4 linked regions of the Homo sapiens genome follow. The protein of the gene in region 2 purifies or fractionates together with the protein of the main gene of each other region. This does not show direct contact. Each region holds a gene or a part of one and is shown on either strand. Other genes may lie near its edges.

Region 1 (3,500 bases), on a different chromosome or scaffold from region 2:
TAAATTACCAGTTGGGTCTGGGCATCCTTCAGAAGGCCTCTGAATTCCCGCATGGATGCTAGGTCCTGTTCCAGCTGGCTGATGCGCTGGCTGGCGTGTGCACAGAAAGCCTCCAACACTATCTCTGCCTATTGAGGGAAGTGGTTGCAAGGCCACAGTGGGCAACAGGGGAGCCAGCACAAAAAGATGTAACCATGACACCTCAATAGATCAGTTCTTTACTGCCCAGGGCAGGCAGTTCTTAGGCCACCCATCTGTGTCTAAAGTGCATTTGTGTTCCTGCAGGAACCTTGAGGTGGAAACCTCCCACATCCAAGAACAAATGCCTGTCACCTTACCGCATCCTTGCCTCTGAGAGCCATTTCCTCTCTGTGCCTTGCCTCCTCCCTTTCTGCTTTGAGGCTCTGGAGCTTTGCCCTCAATTTCTTCAGCAAATCAAAACAGCAACAGACCAATGTTTCTGCACGCCGAGACTATATGGTAAGAATCAGTTAATGTGTCTGGTTCCTCTTTATGGCTTTTAGTCCCACCACAGGCCTCCACCTCCATCTTCAGGCTGCTTACCTCCTGACTCACAGTAGTCTTATCTTCTTCTAAATGCAACAGGGATAGGTGAAGCAAGGATATCAGCTCTTTAGAGATAAGCACCCATGATTGCTGTAGAGAAAAAAATGGGTAGGTGAGATCAAATAAAGTCACTAAGCAGGAAACAGGGGCACTGGGGAGGAAAACCGCTAACCCCAATTCCAAGCTCCGCATAAGGAGATGTACTTTACAAATGTTTGGAAACCTCCCTTCACCACCACGACTTAGTATCACCATCTACTAACCACCCAGGATTCTCCATTCTTCATCTTCACAGGAGACCCAGTGGTGGTGTAAGGTCAATCATCACTTACCATGACATTTCTGGCCTGCTGTAGGGCCTGTCCCATCTCATGGCTCTCCTTAAGATGCTGAAGTTTATTAGTTATCTAGCCAGAAAAACAGAGTTGTTCCTTGTTTTGTTTGTTTGTTTGTTTTTGAGACAGAGTCTTGCTCTATCATCCAGACTGGAGTGCAGTGGCACAATCTCAGCTCACTGCAACCTCCACCTCCCAGGTTCAAGCAATTCTCATGCCTCAGCCTCCCAAGTAGCTGGGATTACAGGCATGCACTACCACACCCAGCTAATTTGTATATTTTTAGTAGAGTCGGGGTTTCACCATGTTGGCCAGGCTGGTCTTGAACTCCTGGCCTCAAGTGATCCACCGACTCGGCCTCCCAAAGTGCTGGGATTACAGGGGTGAGCCACCATGACCAGCCAAGTTGTTCCTTTTGAGTAGGCAACATGTACCACCAGCACCTCATTCTTCCTCCCACCCAGTGAGTTATAGGAGCCTTTCCTATTTTATTTATTTTTTATTTTCTGTAGAGATGAGGTCTTGCTATGTTGCCCTGGCTGGTCTCAAACTCCTGGCCTCAAACAGTCCTCCTGCCTCGGACTTCCAAAGTGCTCCTGCCACACCCAGCCACCTTTCCTATTAAAAGCAGAAGCAAAGTACTCAATTCAATGAAGCCAAGTCAGAAAGAAAAATCCACAGGTAGGTAAAAAATTTCTTTGTTTAGCCAGGCACAGTGACTCATGCCTGTAATCCCAGCACCTTCAGAGGCTGAGGCAGGAGGATCACTTGGGTCCGGGAGTTCAAGACCAGCCTGGGCAACACAGTGAAACCCCATCTCTAAAAAAAAAAAAAAAAGGCTGGGCGCGGTGGCGCACACCTGTAATCCCAGCACTTTGGGAGGTCAAGGCGGGCGGATCACCTGAGGTCGGGAGTTCGAGACCAGCCTGACCAACATGGAGAAACCCCATGTCTACTAAAACTACAAAATTAGCCAGGCGTGGTGGCACGTGCCTGTAATCCCAGCTACTCCGGAGGCTGAGGCAGGAGAATCACTTGAAACCGGGAGGCAAGGTTGCAGTGAGCCGAGATTACGCCACTGCACCCCAGCCTGGGCAACAAGAGTAAAACTCCGTCTCAAAAAAAAAAAATTTTTTTTCATTAGCCAGGCATGGTGGCACATGCCTATATTCCCAGCTACTCAGCTGGATTGAGGTGGGAGGATCCCTTGAGCCCAGGAGGTAGAGGCTGCAGTGAGCCATGTTCGTGCCACTGCACTCCAGTGTGGGTAACAGAGTGAGACCTCGTCTCAAAAAAAAAAAAAAAAAAAAAAAGGATGAACCAATTTATATCCTGCAGATAAATAGAGTATGCTTACCAGCATTACCTATTTTATTCTTTGCTATTGAGTCACAAGAAAATGGCATCTCACTGTTCAATTTGCATTTTTTATTGCCAATAATGCTAACCTTCTTAGGTATTTATTCATCATTTTTACTTTCTTAATTGTCTGCTCATTATCCTGGGTCAGATAGATAAAACTCATAGTATGCATAGAGTAAGTAGGTATGATCTCAAAGGCAGTAGAACCCCAGAAGACAAGTTCTAAGAGAAAAGTGGGAGTCTTCATTACTGAGGCAAGGCAGCCATCATCTGGGGGAAAAGTTACTACTGGAGCAGCACTGCTGATTTCTTGGAGTTCATGGCTCCCTTCCCCAGCAAAGCAGTTATCATTCACTGCTGCATCGTGAAATAAGGCACAGAGTAGCACATGAGCTTGGATAGGGCTCACATCGTGCTCAGCTGGACAGTCAGGCAGGTGATGAGATTAATGTGAAGGAGGCAGCCAGGCAGCAAGGACATGGCATGCTGATGGAGAATGGCTAAAGGTATGTCATTTCCCCTCTTTGGTTCTGCTTCAGTGGCCTACAAAGGGACCTGGCAACCTTCAGGGGAAGAGGATGCATGGCAGATTCAGGGATGGGAAACAAGGTCAAGAACAAGAGGAAAGGACACAAAGATAAGAAAACAGGAGGGAAATTGAACAGCTGGAGGAACATGGAGCTTATGGTTTCCAGGATTTTTGGCAAATGGTAAGGTCATTACTTTGAGGATATTTTCAACTCAAAGGAGGTCTCTGCACATTTGGGGACCATCTCTTCTTAGCAGCAGCCACCTATTATCTCAACAGCCACAATGGTGAGGTGCTATCAATTCCTTCACCTGCCACCATTCCCTTCCTTCTTAGGCCTGTGTTGTAATACAATCCTCTAGAACATTGTTGTTGTTGTTGTTTGAGACAGCCTCACTCTGTTGCCCAGGCTAGAGTACACTGGGTGATCTCGGCTCACTGCAACCTCTACCTCCTAGGTTCAAGCAATTCTCATGCCTCAGCCACCCAAGTAGCTGGGATTACAGGAGTGCACTACCATACCCAGCTAACTTTTGTATTTTTAATAGAGATGGGGTTTCACTATGTTAGCCAGGCTGGTCTCAAACTCCTGGCCTCAAGTGATCTGCCGGCCTCAGCCTCCCAAAGTGCTGGGATTATAAGCGTGAGCCACCACATTGGGCCAACAGTGGTCTTTTAGCTACTTTCCTCTAATATTTCCTGCAAAA
Region 2 (3,500 bases):
ATTTGAACCCAGGAGGCAGAGGTTGCAGTAAGCAGAGATTGCACCACTGCACTCCAGGTCTAGGTGACAGAGGGAGACTCCGTCTCAATCAATCAATCAATAAGACCCCTACCCAGCACCCTCCAGTGATGTCTCAAACTGCTGCTCGCACCTGAGAAGCCCTCCATGGCCTTGTCCCATCCACTTCTCAAGCTCCACCTTCCCCCAGGCTCCCCCTCATTTGCTCAGCCTCCTTGGTCCATCCTTTAAGAGGCAAAATTCATTCCTGTCTCAAGGCCCTCAAACTCATGGTTCCCTCAGCCTTGGCCCAAGGTCTCAAGGCCAGATTGGCTTTCGATGACAAGCTCATCTACCTCTCCCACTCCCTCTGCCCACCCCTGCCCGGCTCTTTTCTTAATAAGCACTTCCACCACCTGAAACTGTATTTTTTTCTACCCTTTTATTTACTTGTTGATTGTCAGTGATCTCCCATTAGAAAATAAGTGGGGTTAGGGACTTGATCTGCTTTGTTCATTGCTAGGTCTGGAGCGCCCAGAACTGTCCCTGCACAAGGTCATTTTCAGTCATTTTCAGTGACTGGAGGACAGGAGGGAGGGAGGATGACTGGATGGGAGAGGTGGGGTGGGGCAGCCAGAGCCGCCCATCTCAGCAGGGACCCAATTGCCCCCCAGGGAGCTGCTCCTGGCTAAGCCAGCCTGGGAATGGAGCAGGAAAGAGGAAGTGGGCTGGAGAGCTGTCCCCTGCTCCTTTCAGACTGATGAGTCCCATTGCTGTGTAAAAAGTCAGGTCTCTGTAAATAAATGGTTTTTCTCCTTTGCCTAGACATTCTTACACCTTCCTATTCCACAGTGAGTTCTCATCCTTTTAATTCTCTTCAGAGATCTCTAACTTTTCCCCAGGGTCCTGGCAGTTACATCCTACGCCAGCCATGCACCTGACCCCCCACAGAGAGTTTTGATATTCTTGGCCTATTTCCAGTGGACAACTATGACCATGACCCTGAGACCATTTTTTAGCCCTTCATAGACTCATAAAATGTTATACCTAGAAAGGATGTTAAAGGTATTTTCATTAAACTCATCTATTTTATAGATGAGGAAATGAGAACTGGAGAGAAGTGGCTTGCCCAAGAGCCAAGTAGCTAATCGAACCAAAAATACAACTCTGAACTAAAAATCGGCCTCTGGACTTCCAGTCAGCACTCACTCTACCTCTCTCCTTCTCCCTATGTTGTAGTCCTATCATTCCCTGCTTGGTTATTTTATTTTATTTTTATTTATTTTTACTGTATTCACAGAGTCACACAACCATCATCATTATCTAACTTTAGAATATTTTCATCACCCCAGAAAGAAATGCTGCACCCATTCACAGTCACTCCCCATTTTCCTCTTCTTTAGCCCCTGGAAACCAATCATCTATTTTCTATTTCCATAGATTTGTCTATGCTGGACATTTCATAAATGTAGTTGCACAATATGTGGTCTTCCGTGACTGACTTCTTTCATTTAGCATACTGTTTTCAAGGTTCATCCATGTTGCAGCATTTGTCAGTACTTCATTCCTTTTCATGGCTGAATAATATTCCATCACATGGATATACCACATTTTATTCAACCATCCATCAGCAGATGAACATCTGAGTCATTTCCATCTTTTGGCTATTAAGAATAATGCTGCTATTCATGTACAAGTCTTTGAATGGACATATGTTTTTATTTTTCTTGGGTGGATACCTAGGAATAAAATTGTTGAGTCACATGGTAACTTAGTCTATGTTTAACATTTAGACTGCTTTCCAAAGTGATAGAATCACTGTACATTCCCTTTAGTAGTGTGTGAAGATTCCAATTTATCCACATTCTCACCAATACTTCCTATAGTCTGCCTTTTTAATTCTAGCTATCCCTGTGGGTATGAAGTGATAGTTCACTGAGTTTGATTTGCATTTCTTTAATCACTAATAATAGAGACAATCTTTTTTTTTTTTTTTTTTTTTTTTTTGAGACAGGGTCTTACTCTGTTGCCCAGGCTGGAGTGCAGTGATGTGATCATGGCTCACTGCAGCCTTGACCTCCCTCAGGTAATCCTCCTACCTCAGCCTCCCAAGTGGCTGGGACTACAGGCACATGCCACCACACCTGCCTAATTTTTCTATTTTTTGTAGAGATAGGGTTCTGCCATGTTGCCCAACCTGGTCTCGAACTCCTGGGCTCAAACTATCTGACCACCTTGGCCTCCCAAAGTGTTAGGATTACAGGTGTGAACCACCATGCCTGGCCCAGACAATCTTTTCATGTACTTATTGGCCACTCATACATGTTTTTTTAAGAGCAACATCTATTCAAATTCTTTGCCTTTTTTTTTTCATAAATAGAGATGGAATTTTGCCATTTTACCCAGGCTGGTCTCGAACTCCTGGGCTCAAACGATCCTCCCGCCTTGGCCTCCCAAAGTGCTGATATTACAGGCATGAGCCACTGTGGCCAGCCCTACAGCACTGTTTTTAACTAAATCTGTTTCGAGTTTCACAATTCTCAGCCCAGTGCTCTGGGCAATTGATCAGAGTTGACATGAGAGATGAGACGAATTTGCCACTCCTATCAGATTTGAAAACTGCAGCTCAGAGAGGTGTTGTAAACGTGGCATTTTCAAAACCCAGCTCATTTGACTCCAAAGCTAGAATTCCTCCCACCACACCCTACTAAAGGACTTTTCCAGAATCAATACACAGGGATTCTAACTCTCTCATCTTTGAATTGGCAATGGCAATTTTGGAATGAGCCCTTCACCAGCTTTCCAGGTGCTGGTCCCTCTTGTTGAGACACATTCAGCAATCAGTTCCCACCTCACCCCCCGCCCCTACCCTTGGCCATCAAATTGGCCTCTGGAACAAGCCCCTGCTCCCGCTAATGCCTTGTGATTCCAGCTCATCTGAGAAGGTGCTTGCTGGGTGTGAATCTCGTCACAGTTCAGCTTTCTTGTGAGTTGAGCACCTCGTCTGCCTGCTGACCTTAGCACTAAGCCAGGCCTAACCAGTGTTAGCACGGGCATGCCTGGCTCCGCTTCCACTAGGACACCGATCTCCAAAAGAGGAGATGCTGGCTACATTGTCCCATCCCCCCTACCCACCACCACCCCACTGGGATGCAGGGGAATAAGGGGGAAGGCTAAGGCTGTCCGCCAAGACCATGGCCCTCCCCTTTGTGCCCTGTCCCCAATCGCTCCCAGCCCAGGGCCCCCACTCACCTTCTCCTTCATCTTCTCAATCTTCTTCACAGAGCTGCGGCGCTGGGGCCGGTCCTCGTGCCGGAGCAGGTTCATGCTGAGGTCTCCTGACTTATTGAACTGCTTCTCCTCCTGCTTCTCAGCCTCCTTCAGCTTGCTTTCCGCACTGATGCTCTCTGCATGGTACATGTGGTAGGTTTTCATGACCTGGGGGTGCACAAGTAGGGGAAATCAGCAGCCAGCTATGGCCCAGCACGGCCCTCCCTGTTACT
Region 3 (3,396 bases), on a different chromosome or scaffold from region 2:
GAAGTGAGTAGTCAGTCTTGGTTCAAACTACCACAGATTCTCATCTTCCTTACTGAATTTTTGTAAATGTTCTTGAATAGATGTTTCTTCATTGCCATTTGTCCTCAGGACCATTTCCAGAAGTTTTAAATGGTTGTTTTTAATATTTTTCACCAGTTTCACAGTATGAAAATTAAACATTCAATTTTTTTACTAAAATGTATTATTTGAAAATTCTATACTAAAAATACAATGGAATTAACCCCATCAATTTCATAATGACTATAAAGTAATCAAGTCACAGAGCCAAAGTATAGACAGTTTAGAAGACTGAACTTTCCTTAGCACTAATATTTAACAATAGGAGCCAATTTCACTTAAAATAATCTGAATGTTATATATGCAACAAATTTTAGTCTCTGTAAAGAATCTTATACCAAAAACCCTATAAAAATGTTAAGTAAATTGAGCCTATTTTTACCATAGGCCTGGCCAAATGTACACATGAAAACTGATGAACGTAATGTGCAAAAAGGCTTGGAGAGAGTTTTATTTCAGTTACTTCAAAATACAAGTAGGCTATTATTTTCCTTTGGAAGAAGAAACCAGAAAAAAAACTTCCTGATTGTAACATTGTGACAAATTTCAGATTATATAACACATAACACAGGATAAATGGCTGTAGCATTAATTTTTTTCTCCAGTTACATTCCTTTATACTAAAAGACTAGTATTAAATCTTAGAAGAAAATTTCAATTGTTCTTACGTGTTACATATTAAACACAAAAGCAATTTATTATTATTTGGTACAACATGAACCTCAGTATTTGCTCAAATGTAGAAAAGGATTCCTTAATATGCTGAGAAATATCCTTAGATAAATCCAACTGTGAAAATATAGAAAAACTCCTTACTGTAATTACTGGGAACCACAAAGTTAATTTTTACAGGGTAGAAAAACTCCACAAAAATGGAGATTCATACTTAAAAACCTTCTTTTACTGATAGAACATTCTTTCTGGTATTATAAAATGAACAAAAGTGTACAGATATGGGCTTGGGGCTAGATAATATCCATAGAACTCGCCATTTTAAGCAATAAAAATTGGCATGTGGGTGCATGCCTGTAATCCCTGCTACTTAGGAGGCCAAGGCAGGAAGACTGCTTGAACCCAGGAGTTCAAGACTAGCCTGGGCAATGTAGTGAGGCCACTGTCGCTCAAGGGAAAAAAAGACATGTTTTTAAACACACTTCTAATAAAAAGAATTTTTAAAACCAACTTTTTTGCTTCTAGATAGTCTCAATGCCTTGGATTTAAAACATGACTCCTTCTTGATACAATGAATTATAAAAGCAAACTAGTTCCACATATTAATTATACGTTCAAGTCTAGTTCCTAAAAAGTCATTTCTCTTTAACCTTTCTTACCTATCAATCAATCATTTTCATATAATCTAATGTCTAAGGACTCCAAATATTGGTACGGGGTGAGTATCCCTAATCTAAAAGTCAGAAACAAGAAATGTTCCAAAATTCAAAACATTTGAGCGCAGATATGACACATAAGGGAAATGCTCATTGAAGCATTTCCAATTTCTAATGAAAGATTTTTGGATTAGGGATGCTAAATTGGTAAATATAATGCAAATATTCCAAAATAATAATTTAAAAACCCCACAAAAAACCAAAATCCAAAACACTTCAGGTCCCAACCATTTTGAATAAGGGATACTCAACCTGTAGTACCATGGGAGCCAATCTTCCCCACAGCTAATTCTGTAATTACCATTTTGTTTCTTCTGTAACAACAAACAGTTTAAATAATTTCCAATTATAAAGATAGATAGGTTAACATCATCATCGTTTTTTAACAAGATAACTTTTATGAAGCTTCCAATTTTAAAAAAGAAAAACACTTATCTATTCAGTAGGGAAGAAACAATCTTATTTATTAATGGCCTGCATATTTAGAAAGGGTTTAAAAACACATACATTTCCTGGGACACAAACTTACTTACCAAATGTATGTCCTTACAAAATAACTTCACAGATCAATAGTCTTGAACTTACACAAAGACATATATATGACATACATTAGGTTAATATACATTTCAAATGTTTTTGCAGCAACTTTCTACCAGAAAGTACACTAATGTGAGAATGTATGTTCTCTTTAACCCCTTAAAAATAGTAATAAAAAATTACAAAATAATGTAAATGTAAAATTAAGGCTGAGACTACATATTCTAGTATTAATAAAGTCAAACAAACAATAGTTATAAAACTTGGTGCTGCTGAATATTTTATATATATATATTTATATATATATATATATATACACACACACACACACACAGGATAAGTCTTTTGAAATTTGAAATGCTACCACTGTCACAAGTTCACTCATTGATTTAATGTTGTTCTGGGTATCTTAACATTTCAATTCCCAAATACCTGTGCTTTTAAAATTTTTATCCTGAATTCTGCATTGAGTTTCCTCACATATTTACAATTAAACATCTAGCCTCTAGAACCTCCCTTACACAAAAGACAAAACATCTTTGTTAAATAAATTCACGCAAAAGTAATAAAAAGGTTTTCAAGAAATAGTTCTGACATGTTCATTATATTTATACTGAAAAATAGTACATGTACTTTTCTTCAGGATTAATAAATGCCATGTGCCAGTTTTACAGTCACTGCCACATTAGCACATTTTCCTCTTACACATTTGCAAGGTAGTGACAACCAAAGGGCATAATGTCTGGAATAATTCCAGTAAATCCATAATGTCCAGTAAGATTCATAAAATTGAATGGTTGTTTCCAGTCCCATCTGAATCGAAATGGAAATTCATGCCCAGGTACTTGTATTGTCCCCAGAAATACTCAGTCTGGTAAGTCACCCTCTTGGTCTTCTGAAACAGAGATGCAGAAAGCAGGGCATTCTTACTGAGACCAATGGCCTCTTCTCTCTGTCACCTCTCATACATCTGTTTTGGTTATAATCCTGGTCAAAGGGGAAAGAAAAAAAAGTTTTATGTACCAAAGGTTTCCTTTCCCTGAATTCCCTCATCACACCTGAATGCTTAAATATCCAATGAAACCATATTCTTTTAAATATAATTCTTGGTATAAACAGATTTAATTAAATCCTTATATATAATCATTTCCTTCACATGTATGCAAAACAAGCCCCCAAATAAAAGTAGTTAACACACACACAGTATATAACATATATAAGTAATTTGTATCACAGTGCTTTGAAATGGTATTATCTCAGACCTAAATTCTGCAGATTTTTCCTTTCACCCCCTTTTCCTTAAATGAACTTATTATTTTAAGAACAGGAATTATAATGCTTATTACAGAAAAGTAACAAAGACAAGCAAAATAAAACATTTAATATTCATAAT
Region 4 (2,466 bases), on a different chromosome or scaffold from region 2:
ATAGAATAGCTGATTCTTACAACAACTGTATGATCAGGGATGAGTTAGAGTATTTCTTTTGTCTTTGCTCAAAGCCATACATATATAAATATATATAAAGATTATTAATAAATTCAACAAAAAATAAACTACAATCATGAATATTTTATTTTATCAATATATGCTAATCAAATGTTTTATTTTATTAATGAGTACAGCTTTGCCTCTATTTTTACATCATAAAATTTCCAAGAGCTTATACTTGATAATCACATAAAATCAATTATATTCTATAATTCTGGAATGAGAGGACTTTAAATAGAACATGGATTTTTCAACCACTTCTTTGTTTACCTTTTTCGTATAGTAAAATATGAGCTTATTTTCTTTTTTGCTCTGTGCCTTTTTAGAATGTGGTTGTTCTCCAACTTCAAAACACAACCATTTTGTGTAATTATTGGATATACAGATGAGAAATAATTTTCCTGTAATAATGGTAAATAATTGTCCTGTAATATATTTATACAAACCTATTTTGTTATAATAGTTCTATGACATACCTATTTTGTTATAATAGTTTTATAACATACCTATTTTGTTATAATAGGGCCTTGGGCTCTATTATAACAAAACAGGTTTATATAAATACATTCATATTTATAGCCTTAAACAAAATAGGTTTGTATAGTAGGCCCAAGGCCCTATTATAACAAAATAGGTTTGTATAAATATATTCATATTTATAGCCTTGGGCCCTGCAAAGTTATTTGGAGAGTGATAGAACCTCCCCACACAAGTGGGTTTTAAATGATACCTAAAAGCCTGAGATAGAGTTTATCATAATGAGAATAAGTAGTGAAGCATTCCTGAAAACAAGGAGGATAAATAGTAGCAATGGCAATATATTCTATTCACCAAAAAAGTAGCTTGTCTCCAGGTCTGGATGACCTCTTCATAAGTGAACAATTCCCTGATGAATGCTGTTCCACTTTAAAGAGATGGTTATTTTGCAATTTATAAACTTAACTGAGCATACTATTTTCAGGACACTACAAAGTACATAGTCAAGTTATTACCGTCATTCCTATAGGACAGAGAATGATTTAAACAATATGACATGTTTAAAATTTTAGATGATTTATTTCAAATCCTGAATTATGTCTACTTCAAATTATGAGCAATCTCTATTATCTTTCAGGACTATTTAAAAAATCTCCATACCTCCTCTTTCAGCTTAGGTTTTTATATTTGTTAATTTTACTATGTTACTTTGCTTCTATGGCCCTCACTTGCACTGTTTATAATGTTAACCTGTTTGAATGAGATATCTCTCCATTATATCTTTATCTTTTTAGAACATGTGCCATAAAACCCATGTGGTTATTTTGTTCATATGCACTACAACTAGCAAACTTTTATTTTATGTTCACCTACTTTAAAAAGTACTCATACTGTACCATGGGAAAGAAACATGGGCCTTATAGAATGGAATGCTGAGCTATTTTGAGTCCTGAAAACAATGGCCAAAAATTTAAGGAACTGTGGTTGCTGCATGCACCAAATTGTAGCACATACAAATAAATAAAATACAGTTCTATAACTGTATTCAATATGGTTATTTTCAAGGAAAAATAGGATAGAAATTTTCTTTGAAAGATTTGCTATTGTACTTAGGGAAGTACACCTGCTATTACCCCTCAAAAGCAATGACTTTCTTAAGCAATTTCAATTTTTTTCCTTTTTAACAACCCTGCACTTGCACAACCCTGCATCTCTTGTCTCACCCTAATGCTGACCCTGCTTCCAATTCAGGCTTTGACAGGGACAAATGGAGATTTTAAGGTTTTTTAATGAGAGAAGCCTTGCTGACACTCCCCGCATCCCACCTTGAAAATTATTTAAAGATGATCTTAAAAGAACCTACAGATAATGCTCTGAATTTGTTTACAAGGTCCTTGATGTGGAGAGAATGAGTAATACATTAAATGCTGGGGAAATAATTATCATTTAGTGAAAAATTAAGCATGCTTTTCTAAAATGTGGATGTTTAACAGAGCACAGCTGATTGGGAACACTGGCAGTTCAATGCAGCTGGAGTGTCTCACAGGGTGAAGAGGAACCCAGATCAAGTGGGAAATAGGGATTTCAAAAACCTTCTGAAAGGCTTTTAACATCAGGGCAAAGGTTTTACAGTGTTGTACTTTATATTCTTAATTTAAGCTTATCAACGGGGAGGATTCACATTGAAATGTCTGTTTTGCTAATGTAACAAGGAATAAAATAATTTATGACACAGCAAAAACTGGGGGCTATTTACAACCCCACCCTGCCTTGTGAGGATGCTGGGTCCTAAGGAAGGTCCTAGGTTTGCTAAATAGAGTAATGGGAATAGGAAACTGAAAGTTTACTTGCTTTGCGTAAGATAATATATTGCGGCAGGGAAGGGGTACAAGAAGATAAGAGCTAGAACCTGTGAGAAGGGAAAGA

The links. The genes of interacting proteins can lie anywhere in the genome.
Region 1: the proteins of SRGAP3 (region 2) and SPAG5 purify together in Homo sapiens (affinity purification with mass spectrometry; 3 studies listed by BioGRID and IntAct, with this or other methods). This does not show direct contact.
Region 3: the proteins of SRGAP3 (region 2) and SMCHD1 purify together in Homo sapiens (affinity purification with mass spectrometry; one large-scale study listed by BioGRID and IntAct). This does not show direct contact.
Region 4: the proteins of SRGAP3 (region 2) and HCN1 purify together in Homo sapiens (co-immunoprecipitation; one large-scale study listed by IntAct). This does not show direct contact.

The regions. Positions count from the first base shown.
Region 1 is NC_000017.11:28,585,526-28,589,025, forward strand, and holds part of SPAG5 (sperm-associated antigen 5), read right to left. Parts: intron 975-3,500; coding exon 900-974; intron 658-899; coding exon 565-657; intron 474-564; coding exon 339-473; intron 129-338; coding exon 9-128; intron 1-8. UniProt on the Homo sapiens protein: Essential component of the mitotic spindle required for normal chromosome segregation and progression into anaphase. Required for chromosome alignment, normal timing of sister chromatid segregation, and maintenance of spindle pole architecture.
Region 2 is NC_000003.12:9,061,147-9,064,646, forward strand, and holds part of SRGAP3 (SLIT-ROBO Rho GTPase-activating protein 3), read right to left. Parts: intron 3,436-3,500; coding exon 3,250-3,435; intron 1-3,249. UniProt on the Homo sapiens protein: GTPase-activating protein for RAC1 and perhaps Cdc42, but not for RhoA small GTPase. May attenuate RAC1 signaling in neurons.
Region 3 is NC_000018.10:2,802,122-2,805,517, reverse strand, and holds the end of SMCHD1 (structural maintenance of chromosomes flexible hinge domain-containing protein 1), read right to left. Parts: intron 2,991-3,396; coding exon 2,966-2,990; coding exon of another isoform or gene 2,883-2,965; 3' UTR 501-2,882; downstream 1-500. UniProt on the Homo sapiens protein: Non-canonical member of the structural maintenance of chromosomes (SMC) protein family that plays a key role in epigenetic silencing by regulating chromatin architecture.
Region 4 is NC_000005.10:45,256,915-45,259,380, reverse strand, and holds part of HCN1 (potassium/sodium hyperpolarization-activated cyclic nucleotide-gated channel 1), read left to right. Parts: 3' UTR 1-2,466. UniProt on the Homo sapiens protein: Hyperpolarization-activated ion channel that are permeable to sodium and potassium ions. Displays lower selectivity for K(+) over Na(+) ions.